Linked DNA regions of Homo sapiens. The protein of the gene in region 3 interacts with the protein of the main gene of each other region in a pairwise test. Each region holds a gene or a part of one and is shown on either strand. Other genes may lie near its edges. The genes, in order: FBXL5, MTUS1 and ORC4.

Region 1 (3,653 bases), on a different chromosome or scaffold from region 3:
CTAGAACTAGAAATACCATTTGACCCAGCCATCCCATTACTGGGTATATACCCAAAGGATTATAAATTATGCTACTATAAAGACACATGCGCACATACGTTTATTGTGGCACTATTCACAATAGCAAAGACTTGGAACCAACCCAAATGTCCATCAATGATAGACTGGATTAAGAAAATGTGGCACATATACACCATGTAATACTATGCAGCCATAAAAAATGATGAGTTCATGTCCTTTGCAGGGACATGGATGAAGCTGGAAACCATCAGTCTTAGCAAACTGTCACAAGGACAGAAAACCAAATACCGCATGTTCTCACTCATAGTTGGGAATTGAACAAAGAGAACACTTGGACACAGGGTGGGGAACGTCACACACTAGGTCCTGTGGTGGGGGTAGGGGACTGGGGGAGGGATAGCATTAGGAGAAATACCTGATGTAAATGATGAGTTGATGGGTGCAGCAAACCAACATGGCACATATATACCTATGTAACAAACTTGCACGTTGTGCACATGTACCGTAGAACTTAAAAGTATTAAAAAAAAACAGTTGCTTATTGCCTAGGGCTCAGATGTTTTCTCTTTGTAGAGATTTTTATCGTAAATAGCTTAGTTTTTCATAATTGCAGGCAATCTGATATTATTTTGAACCTTTTACTTGTTTATTCATTGAGTAGGTGACTGGTATAGTGGTCCCGCAACTGAACTTGATACTGAACCTGATGATGAATGGGTGAAAAATAGGAAAGATGAAAGTCGTGCTTTTCATGAGTGGGATGAAGATGCTGACATTGATGAATCTGGTAAGCTTGTTTGGAATTAAAATTATTACATAGTGTTTTAATAATTGATAATTAAGTACTTATAATTATTAGGTATTAGATTTATGTATTTTGTGTTTTCTAAAGAAACTGGTGTTTCTAAGCCTACTACTTTTTAAAATTTGAAGGAATAATAATGAAATTTTAAATTAATTGAAGTACTTTAAAGAGTGCATAGGATTATTTCTCGTTTTTATATTAAAATCAAAAATCAGAAAATGGTACCTTTTTTCTTATGAAAATAATGTACGTTTATTATAGTGCTTTGTAGTTTACAATGTGATTTTAGCACCACTTCAAGTGATCAGTTGCACAGCATCTATTGAGTCATCTATGGCTTGAGGGAAATAGGATGAAACTGTTGAGTCGACTTACTCGTTTGTAGATAGTCTTAATACTTGCCTAATAAGGTTATTGTAGAATTAAGAAGTAATATACATAAATATTGTTTGTAAATGGTAAGGGATTACAAAAACTAATGTAGCCATTCATTAAACACTGTGGGAGAGTTCAAGGATGGATAAGACTTCATCGCTACTCCAAACAACTCACAAATGAGAGAGAATTTAGAAAACATAATTTTTAATTTAAAGTATATGATGGAAAAATGCTGTCATACTTGTGCAGAGAGATGCTATTTGGAAGTGTGAGGAGGAAAACAAATTCTGTCTTGGATATTCTAGATAATAATTATTAAAAGATGGTAAAATAGTAAAAAATGAACAGATGAGACATTCTTCTAGTTGGTAAAACTGAAACTATAGGAAATTTTATTTATAAAGTTACTTGCTTAAAGTAATTTGGTCTGGCGAAAGAATTAAATGTGGAAAAAAGACACGTGGAAAGTAACAGTGTAAGTATAAAGATTGTTGTATCAGCAGCTAAAGTAGTTTATTTTTATGAAACGCAGATGTGCCACATTTTGATGTAAAGATTCAAAATGTCCTATATAAGGAAAAGGTCTATTCTAGTTTGATAGATTTGGTGATGTGCTTACCTGTGGCAGGCATTGTTTTAGGTATGAAGGATCTAATGGTGAACAAAATGGAAAAAAGCAAAACAAAACTGGCGCTTGTTGAGCTTAAAATTTAGAGACAGGAGGCAAACAATAAATACAGGTAAAATATATTCCATATTAGATGGTGACAAGTGTTGTAGAGAAAAATAAGACAAGGAAAACATGCCAAGAAGAATTTAAAATTGCAGTTTTAAATTGAGCGATTAGTTAAGGTCCTTTGGGAAATTTGAGTAAAGACCTGAAGGAGATGAGATATTTGCTCAGATGTCAACTTAAGGAAGTCTCAGTTTATTCATTCTAGAAAATTAATTCATAATACCCGTGGTAAGAATGTTGAAGGTTCTCACAAATTCAGTGTATTTGTCTCCATACTTGAAGATAGCCAGAGGAAAGACTCAATTTCCTTCATATTGAAAAGGAAAAGTTAACGCTGTAAAGATTGAGCCTTTTTAGATAATATATCTGTTGATTATTAAAGACTAAACTGTCATTTACTTCAGTGCTTTTTTCGGTTTGGCTGCCTTGTCTTTTTACTTGTCCTAAGAAGTTATTGTTTTTCATAGAATGTTTAACTTTCTTAAAGATTTCACAGTTCCAGTTACCTTGATTTAATCATCACACATTGTATACAGGTTCCATAGTATCACATGTACCCCCAAAATATGCATAATTATTGTATATCAATAAAAAATTAAAAATTTAAAATTTTCACAGTAAATAGTATACATTTAGATAGTGAGGGCCACAGAAACAAAAGAATGGTTTGGGAATAAAATTATAGTAGGGCTCACTAAAGTAATTTTTATCTCCTTATATTTTATCTTCGTGTGTGTGTGTGTGCGTGTGTGTGTGTGTGTCTGTGTCTGGCTAAAGGAGGAATTTAGGATAATATCTAAACAAGGAACCATGAGTAACAAATTCTTTTAGTTGATATCCTTTTGTCTGCTATACTTAGTTTTGTTTTAAATGAGACTTCCTTAACTTATTCTGTTAAATCATTTTATGTTTAAAGACATTCAAATTGGTCTTTAGGTAAGAATAATAACAATAGGATCCTGAGAAAGGTAATACAATACAATTATTCATTCTTTTTAGTGTAGTGTGTTTTTTCCTTTTTTCGAATTGGAGTTTATGGTGTTTTCATGGTGGATGTTACAGTAGTACATTCTGTTGTAAACATCCAAGCTTTACAGAAGTTATTAAGTAAAACCAAAAGCCATGCTCATTTTTAGCTTCTTAGAAATTCTAAAGTACCTTCCTTTGCTTGATTCATTATGATCAGGCTAATTTAGTTGAGTTTCAAATCTTTTCTAGCTTTGTGCCCTTTTTAGTTATGTGGAATCAGTGATAGTACGTTTTACTATGGATCATTTTTCTTTTGATATCATATTTTCTTTTCTCTTGAAAACTTTTGCTGTTCTTTTCAGTTTTCACATTTTTTTCCAAAACCTTTTCATTGCCTAAAAATGGGATGGTTTACATAAGAAAGTATAAGGATAGCACAAAGTATGTCATATTTAACAATTTGGTGAGCGCTTGAGTAGCTTAATTATTATCAGTTTATCAAGTTCTTGGACTTTTGAATTCATTTTACAGAAGAGTCTGCGGAGGAATCAATTGCTATCAGCATTGCACAAATGGAAAAACGTTTACTCCATGGCTTAATTCATAACGTTCTACCATATGTTGGTACTTCTGTAAAAACCTTAGTATTAGCATACAGCTCTGCAGTTTCCAGCAAAATGGTATGTTTAAATTAACACTAGTTTGGGTATTAAGAAAAACAGCATGATAAGAGTTTGGTTTGCT
Region 2 (4,122 bases), on a different chromosome or scaffold from region 3:
TGTTCCTAATAGTATATACCAGGCCCAGTGGCTTCTCATCAACAAATGCAATTAGTTTTGCAACAGTCTCTAACCCAAGATATGGAAGTTCTTGCAATGAATTTGAAAAGATTCTAATTTAGAATTTGGGGAATTTTTTTTTTTTAAGATGGAGTTTTGCCCTGTTGCCCAGGCTGGAGTGCACTGGAGTGATCTCGGCTCACTGCAACCTCCACCTCCCGGGTTCAAGCGCTTCTCCTGCCTCAGCGTCCCAAGTAGCTGAGATTACAGATCCATGCCAACACAATTGACTAATTTTTTGTATCTTTAGTAGAGACGGGGTTTCACCATGTTGCCCAGGCTGGTCTCGAACCCCTGACCTCCTGATCCGCCCGCCTTGGCTTCCCAAAGTGCTGGGATTAGAGGCGTGAGCCACCGCACCCGGCTGGAAAATTTTTTTTAAATCTTCTACCACAGTCACATATAGTTCTGAAGCTACGATTTAGAAGTGTTAAAAATTCTGTTTTGAGAAAGTCAACAGATTTATCAACATTAAAGAAATTTGTGTATGTCAAAACTACTGTAAATATATAAAGCAAAGATAAAATGGGAAAAGTATCTGCAATATGAATGGCAAAGATTTACTATCAATCCATAAAAGGCTCTTATGAATTAATGGAAAAATACTAATATCCCAGGAGAAAAATCTGGCACTACATCAAATTTCAAAATGGAAAACAACTAGATTTCTTTGGTGTTCAAATCATCTGTAATCAAAGAAATTGAAGTTTAAATATAGAGAAAGCACTGTTCACCTATAAACCTGGGAAGAATTTTTTTTTTTTCCCTTTAAGGATGATTCTACATGTTGACAAGAATACGGTAACACCAGTATTCTCACAGAGAGCTGGTGGGAACATAATTTGGTTAAACATTTTTTGGAAAGCAAATGGTCAATATGTATGAGGAGATCTTCCAACCATCAACTGTATTTCAAGGGCACTAAGGATATTAACCCTGCACATAAAGTTTTAAAAACGTATTTGTTGCAAAAGTATATTTAGTAAGTGGAAATAAATGAAAACCAGTTTGATACATCTATGTAATGTAATATTAAGTAGCCACTAAGATTTCTGAAGATTTCATGACATGGAAAATTTTTCATGATACATTAATCAGGAAAAAACCTCCACGCAATAGTATATTTAGATAAACTATATAACTATAAAAAATTTTTCTATATATTAACAAGTATTTTCTTAAATATTAACTGTGATTATCTTTGCTGAAATTGCTTAACTCACTTTTCTCAATCTACCTATTTTTATACAGCAAGCACGGATTACTTTTGAAATCAAAACAAACAGGGTTAACAGAACAGGGCTATTAAGTAACAGGCTTTTTAAATGCTTGAGTGTAATAACTGCAGGTTAGTTTCCAAAAAATATAAGATATTATCTAGAATCTTATAATCCTATTATACTCCAAAATGTAACCTTGACTTATTGACATAATTAAAAGGTCTTGTTCCAAGCATGATTTTCTACCAAGCAGATTTACCAAGAATTATTTTCTCTTCATAAACCTGATTTTAAAAAGAACAGGTGAAAAAACGTGGTGCAAGTTACATAAATAACTACATATTATTTTAAACTAAATTCCACTTCTAAGGTTTTTTAGCTTTGGTTTTAAGGATAAGCATGTAGTTCTAATCTTTTCTTTGTATAGCTTTCCTAATGGAATATATTGCCTATGAAAAAAAAAAAATCTGTAACAGCACTTTCTACACTGTAAAGCACTGTACTAACAGGACATCACCATTTTAAGTTGTGTATCATTTCCTGCCCTAACCATCCCTGAAAAAGCAAACTGTCTACAGAATTGCAATTCCGTTTATGCAATTCCTTTTAAAGTTGTCCATGCACTGTTATCTTGTATATACCCTCCTTAAAGAGGTCACTGGTTCCCAGGAAGCAATGACTCTCTTTTTTAATCCCCTCCCTCCTGCATTGCCTCCCTTCCTCCTGAAATTCACTGGTAACACCCCTACTCCCACCCTCCAGCCCCAGCGCTGTGATTTAGTGATGATTGACTTTCGATCACCTGCACCTGGCAAAACTTGAAAGCTTCCACGCACCGTTTTGCCTAAGACTTTGGTTTCATTGAAACAAACAAAACACACTGGATTTCCTTTCTTAGAACACTGACTACTTCAAACAAACAGTATTTAACAGAGTATGTGTAACTACGCAGGCTAAATGAATTAACCTCTTCCTTCCTAGTCCCAAATTACTCCAAGTCAAAAATCAACAAACAACTTGGTAGAAAGGAGTACGTCTTCAAAAAAGAACAAAAACGTTCCTCAGTGAACACCTAAGTCCACTAAGCACTATAGAGTAGTCAATAAGGTCACCTTAATTAAGATGAGATTTTTCTAGAGCGTGAAAAAGTGCAAACAAGCTGCAGAAAGTAGCGAGGCGCCACGAGGGGTCTTTGGGACCTGCAGCAACCCTATTCCACCCGCTTTCTCGGCCCCGCTTGCTTCTGCTGAGAAGGGGCCCTGCGAGAAGGCTGGGACCGCCGGGCCCGGGTGGGCGGCGTAAGGAGTCCACAGTCAAGCCCCTCGGTCACTTTCAAGGTGACAGCGACGAGATCCGCATCCGTCCCTTCCGCAGGCTCTGCGCTGGCCCACGTGAGACCCGCCTCCGCTCCGCCGGCGCTGCCGCCCCCTTTAGCCCTCAGCTTCGGCCCCCAGGCCCCTGGAACGCCCCCTCCCCTCCCCGAGGACCGGTCCCGTCACCCTGGGCGGCGCGCTCGCCTGTCCCCTCCCCACCCCGGCCGCCGGGCAGCGGGAACAGATTCCAGCGCGCACTTACCCGCAGCTCCTTCAAGCGCTCCGGGAGCAAAGACGCAGAGGCGGGGAGGGCTGGCGCCCTTTGCACCACTGGCGGGGTCGCCGAGAACCCGCCCCGGAGGTCTCGGGGGCGGCGTCTGCACCTGGGGGCGCGCGGCGCGGCACCACCCCACGCCTGCGGCGGCTACCAGGCGGGACCCGGAGCCCCGGCCTCCCCGCCTCCCCGCCTCCGGGGCCGCCAGGGGGTGGAGCAGGGCGGGGAGTTCGGGAAACTTGTAAATAGCCGAACTCGGGCCTCCCGCCCCAACCCGGGGCGGCTCCTTCCGAAGGCTCCACTCCAGCGGCTCGCTGCGGGAGACCAAGGCCAGCCGCCGTCCCAGGGGACGGCCCTCGGGGAACCTGAATGACGTGCGAGGCCGTACCTCGGGGCGCTGGACTCCGCTCGGGCGCTCCCGCTCTCCGCTCCCGCTCTCGGGTCCCAATCCCGACGCTCCGCGCGCTCCCGGACTAAGTGCGGACGCGCCCCACGCCCCCCGGCGCCAGCCCGGGACAGCGCTGCACCTGTTGCCACGTGCGACGCGGCGCTCAGCGGCTGCCACTGCCGCCGGCGCACCTGGCTGCACCGCGCGTCCCGGGACCACGCTCGTCCCCGCAGGAGCCCGGGGCTCCGCCGCACCCAGCGCTAGGGCCCAGGCCGGGCCGCGGTAGGTGGGGGATCTGACTCCTGCTTGCCTCTGGCCACCTGCAGGCCGAGGGGCCTCGCACCGCGGGGCGTATAGAAGGTGGGAAGGTTGCAGAATTATCAGGGCGGAAGCTTGCAAGGAAGGAGTCGTGATTGTCTCTTAGAAGGGCTGATTCGCAGTCTGTATTATCTTCATGCTTCTAGCAAGTTTACTAGCAAGTGTGTATTAAAGGTTAAAGAAAGTAGCTTTCCAGCTATTAGAGCTTGAGATACAACGTGGAAAGGAGTCTAGAACCCCAGGGAGATAAACTAGGCTCGACCTACTTTTCTCTAAACACAAACACAGTCCTTGCTGTTTGCTAAACTGAGCAAATTTCATCGACAGCTGTCTTCTAGGTCCGTAAAATATTTTCTTCTATAAAGCATATTTTTAATAGAAAACTTGTCCGAAGATGCTATTCTGCCTGTGAGAGATGTCACATTGCTGAACCGTGAAATGTCAGACAACCTGAGAACAAAATTTTAATATTTCCTTTTTAATTACCTGGATTGTGGTTTGCTAAAAGCTTTTAAAGAGAAGTGAACTTTTTTGGAGAATAGACGTAAG
Region 3 (3,653 bases):
TCCTAATGATGTTGTCCTTAAACTCTGAACATAAATTGGGTAGTTTATCTGAGTCCCCAGCTTTGTTAGGCAATGTGCTTTTATTTTTATTTTTGATTTTGATTTTTTGTGTTTATTTTTATTTTAAATGAGGTCTCGCTGTATTGCACACAATCATCCTGAATTCCTGGGCTCAAGCTATCCTCCTGCCTTGGCCTGTCAAAGGATAGGATTACAGGCATGAGCCACCACACCTGGCCTTGTGCTTTGATTTTTTTACCATAGACCGGCACATCTTCCATTAGCTCAGCCTTTTTTCTCAGCCTTTTCTTCTAGACAGGAAAATGTCCTCAGAACAAAAGTTACTTGGTGTATGGTTTGTTTCTGGTTTACCTTCACATGGAATTTGGTAAGTAATTTCACATTACTTTATTTCATTCATTATTTAGTTTTTTTGTTGGCGTCAGCAGAAAGGTTGGTCCTGTCTGCCACTACCATAAATAAAACCCTAATTGTCTTTCTTTTTTACTTCTGAGATTTGATTTTAATATATTTATGCTTTGAGCCAAAATTTTTTTAACTTAACTCATATATTTAAAAATTTTAATTTTTAATTACTATGGATACATAAAATGGGGAGTATGTGATATTTGATATAAGCATACAATGTGTAATGATCAAATCAGGTAATTGGGATATCCATTACCTCAAGTATTTGTCATTTCTTTGTGTTAGGGACATTTCATTTCCACTCATTTAATTGTTCTAAAACATACACTAAATTATTGTTAGCTGTAATTACTATATTGTGCTACTGAACACTATATTTTATTCCTTCTATCTAACTATATTTTTCTACCCATTAACCATCTCCTCTTGATTCTCCTCTCAACACTACCCTTCCCAGCCTCTGCTAACATCTTTTTACTCACTATCTCTATGACTTCAATTTTTTTGAAGCTTCCACATATGGGTGAGAACATGTGATACTTGTCTTTCTATGCCTGGCTTATTTCCCTTATAATGTCAGTCACATCCATATTGTTGAAAATGACAGGATTTCATTTTTTTTTTATGGCTGAATAACATTCCATTGTGTATATGTACCACATTTCTTTATCCATCCATTGATTGACAGTTAGGTTGATTCCATATCCTGGCTATTGTGTATAGTGCTGCAGTTAACATGGGAGTACAGATACCTTTTATATACTGATTTCCTTTCTCTTGGGTATATACACAGTAGTGGGATTGCTGGATTATAGTTCTATTTGTTGTGTTTTTAGGAAGCTCCATACTGTTCTCTGTTGTGACTGTGCCAGTTTACATTTCCACCAACAGTGTACAAGGGTTCCCCTTTCTCCACATTCTCACCAGCATCTGATATTGACTGCCTTTTCGATAAAAGCCATTTTAACTGGAGTGAGTTGATACCTCATTATAGTTTTGATTTGTATTTCTCTGATTATTAATAATGTGGAACATTTTTTTCATATGCCTGTTTGCCATTTGTATGTCTTTTTGAGAAATGTCTCCTCAGATCTTTTGCCCATTTTAAAATCAGATTTTTTTTTCCTATTGAGTCGTTTGAGATTCTTATATATTCTGGTTATTAATCCTTTGTCAGATATTAGTTTGAAATATTTTCTCCCATTCTACATGTTATATCTTCATTTTATTGTTTTCATTGCTGTGCAGAAGCTTTTTGGCTTGGAGAGATCTCATTTGTTGTTATTTTATTTTATTTTCTTGCTTTAGTTGCTTGTGTTTTTGAGGTCTTATTTAAGAAGTCTTTGCCTAGACCAATGTCCTGGAGTTTTTGCCTAATGGTTTCCTTGATTAGTTTCATAGATGTAAGTCTTTAATGCATTTTTCTTTGATTTTTGTATATGGCAAGAGTTGGGGTCTACTTTTGTTGTTCTGAATGTGGGCATCCAGTTTTCCCAACACCATTTATTGAAGAGACTGTCCTTTCCCAATGAGTGTTTTTGGCACCTTAGTAAAAAACTAATTGGCTTTAAATACACAGATTAATTTCTGGACTCTCTGTTCTGTTGTTCTACATGTCTGTTTTTATGCCACTATCGTGCTATTTTGGTTACTATAGCGTTGTAGTATATTTTGAGGTTTGGTAGTGTGGTAAGTCTACCAGTTACCAGCTCTGTTCTTTTTGGTCAGGATTGTTTTGGCTATTTGGGGTCTTTTGTGCTTCCATACAATTTTAGGATTTTTTTTTTCTATTTCTGTGAAGAATGTCATTGCTCTTGATAGGGATGGCTTTGAATCTGTAGATTGCTGTGGGAAGTATTGTCATTTTAACAATACAATTTTTTTCAACCCATGAGCATGGGATGTCTTTTCATTTGTTTGTGTCCTCTTCAATTAATTTCATCAATGTTTGATAGTTTGCATTGTAGTTGGTTAAGTTTATTTCTAGATATTTAATATTATTTGTAGCTATTGTAAATGGGATCACCTTCTTGATTTCTTTTTCAGATAGGTTGTCACTGTTGGCATAGAGAAATTCTATGGATTTTTGTGTGTTGATTTTGTATTCTGCAATGTTACTGAATTTATTAGTTCTAATAGTCGTTTGTTGGAGTCTTTAGGTTAGTATAAGATCACATGAGCTGCAAACAATGATAATTTTACTTACTCCTTTCCAATTTAAATGCCCTTTATTTCATTCTCTTGTCTGTTTACTCTGGCTAGGACTTCTGTTACTAACTTGAGTAATAGTGGTGAAAGTGCCCATCCTTCTTCTAGATCCTAGAATAAAGGCTTTCAGTTTTTCCCCCATTCAGTCTGATACTAACTGTGGGTTTGTTGTGTATGGCTTTATCATGTTGAGGGATGATCCTTCTGTCCCCAGTTTGCTGAGAGTTTTTATGAAGGGATATTGAATTTTATCAAAAAAGATTTTTTTGGCATCTATTGAAATGACAATACACTTTGTGTCCTTCATTCTGTTGATACCATGTATCACACTGATTGATTTACATATGTTGAACCATCCTTACATCCCTGGGATGAATCCCACTTGATTATGATGATCTTTTTAATGTGCTGTTGAATTTGGTTTGCTGTGTTTTGTTGAAGATTTTTATATCTATTTTCATCAGAGATACTGGCCTGTAGTTTCTTTTTTGTTGTTGTTGTATCGTTGTCTGGTTTTGGTATCAGAATAAATCTGGGGCCAGGCATGGTAGCTCACGCCAGTAATCCCAGAACTTTGGGAGGCTGAGGCAGGCAGATCTCTTGAAGCCAGGAGTTTGAGACCAGCCTGGCCGACATGGTGAAACCCCATCTCTACAAAAAATACAAAAATTAGCTGGGCATGGTGGCTTATGCCTGTAATCCCAGCTAATCTGGAGGCTGAGGCAGGAGAATCGCTTGAACCCAGTAGGTGGAGGTTGCAGATCACCTGGGCAACAGAGTGAGACTCTGTCTCAAAAAAAAAAAAAAAAAAAAAAAGAATAAATCTGGCCTCATAAAATGAATTTGGAGATCCTCCTTGATTTTGGAGAATGATTTGAGTAGGATTGATGTTAGTTCTTCTTTAAATGTTTGGTAGAACTCAGTGAAGCCATGAAGTCCTGGCCTTTTCTGTGATGGGGGACTTTTTATTATTGTTTCTATCTTGAAACTTATTATGGGTCTATTTCGATTTTGGT

Evidence for each region.
Region 1: the proteins of ORC4 (region 3) and FBXL5 interact in a two-hybrid assay, tested with the Homo sapiens proteins (one large-scale study listed by BioGRID and IntAct).
Region 2: the proteins of ORC4 (region 3) and MTUS1 interact in a two-hybrid assay, tested with the Homo sapiens proteins (one large-scale study listed by BioGRID and IntAct).

Annotation. Positions count from the first base shown.
Region 1 is NC_000004.12:15,627,821-15,631,473, reverse strand, and holds part of FBXL5 (F-box/LRR-repeat protein 5), read left to right. Parts: intron 1-682; coding exon 683-808; intron 809-3,440; coding exon 3,441-3,589; intron 3,590-3,653.
Region 2 is NC_000008.11:17,798,206-17,802,327, forward strand, and holds the start of MTUS1 (microtubule-associated tumor suppressor 1), read right to left. Parts: upstream 2,890-4,122; 5' UTR 2,856-2,889; intron 2,713-2,855; exon of another isoform or gene 2,393-2,712; intron 1-2,392. UniProt on the Homo sapiens protein: Cooperates with AGTR2 to inhibit ERK2 activation and cell proliferation. May be required for AGTR2 cell surface expression. Together with PTPN6, induces UBE2V2 expression upon angiotensin-II stimulation.
Region 3 is NC_000002.12:148,010,649-148,014,301, reverse strand, and holds part of ORC4 (origin recognition complex subunit 4), read left to right. Parts: intron 1-3,653. UniProt on the Homo sapiens protein: Component of the origin recognition complex (ORC) that binds origins of replication. DNA-binding is ATP-dependent. The specific DNA sequences that define origins of replication have not been identified yet.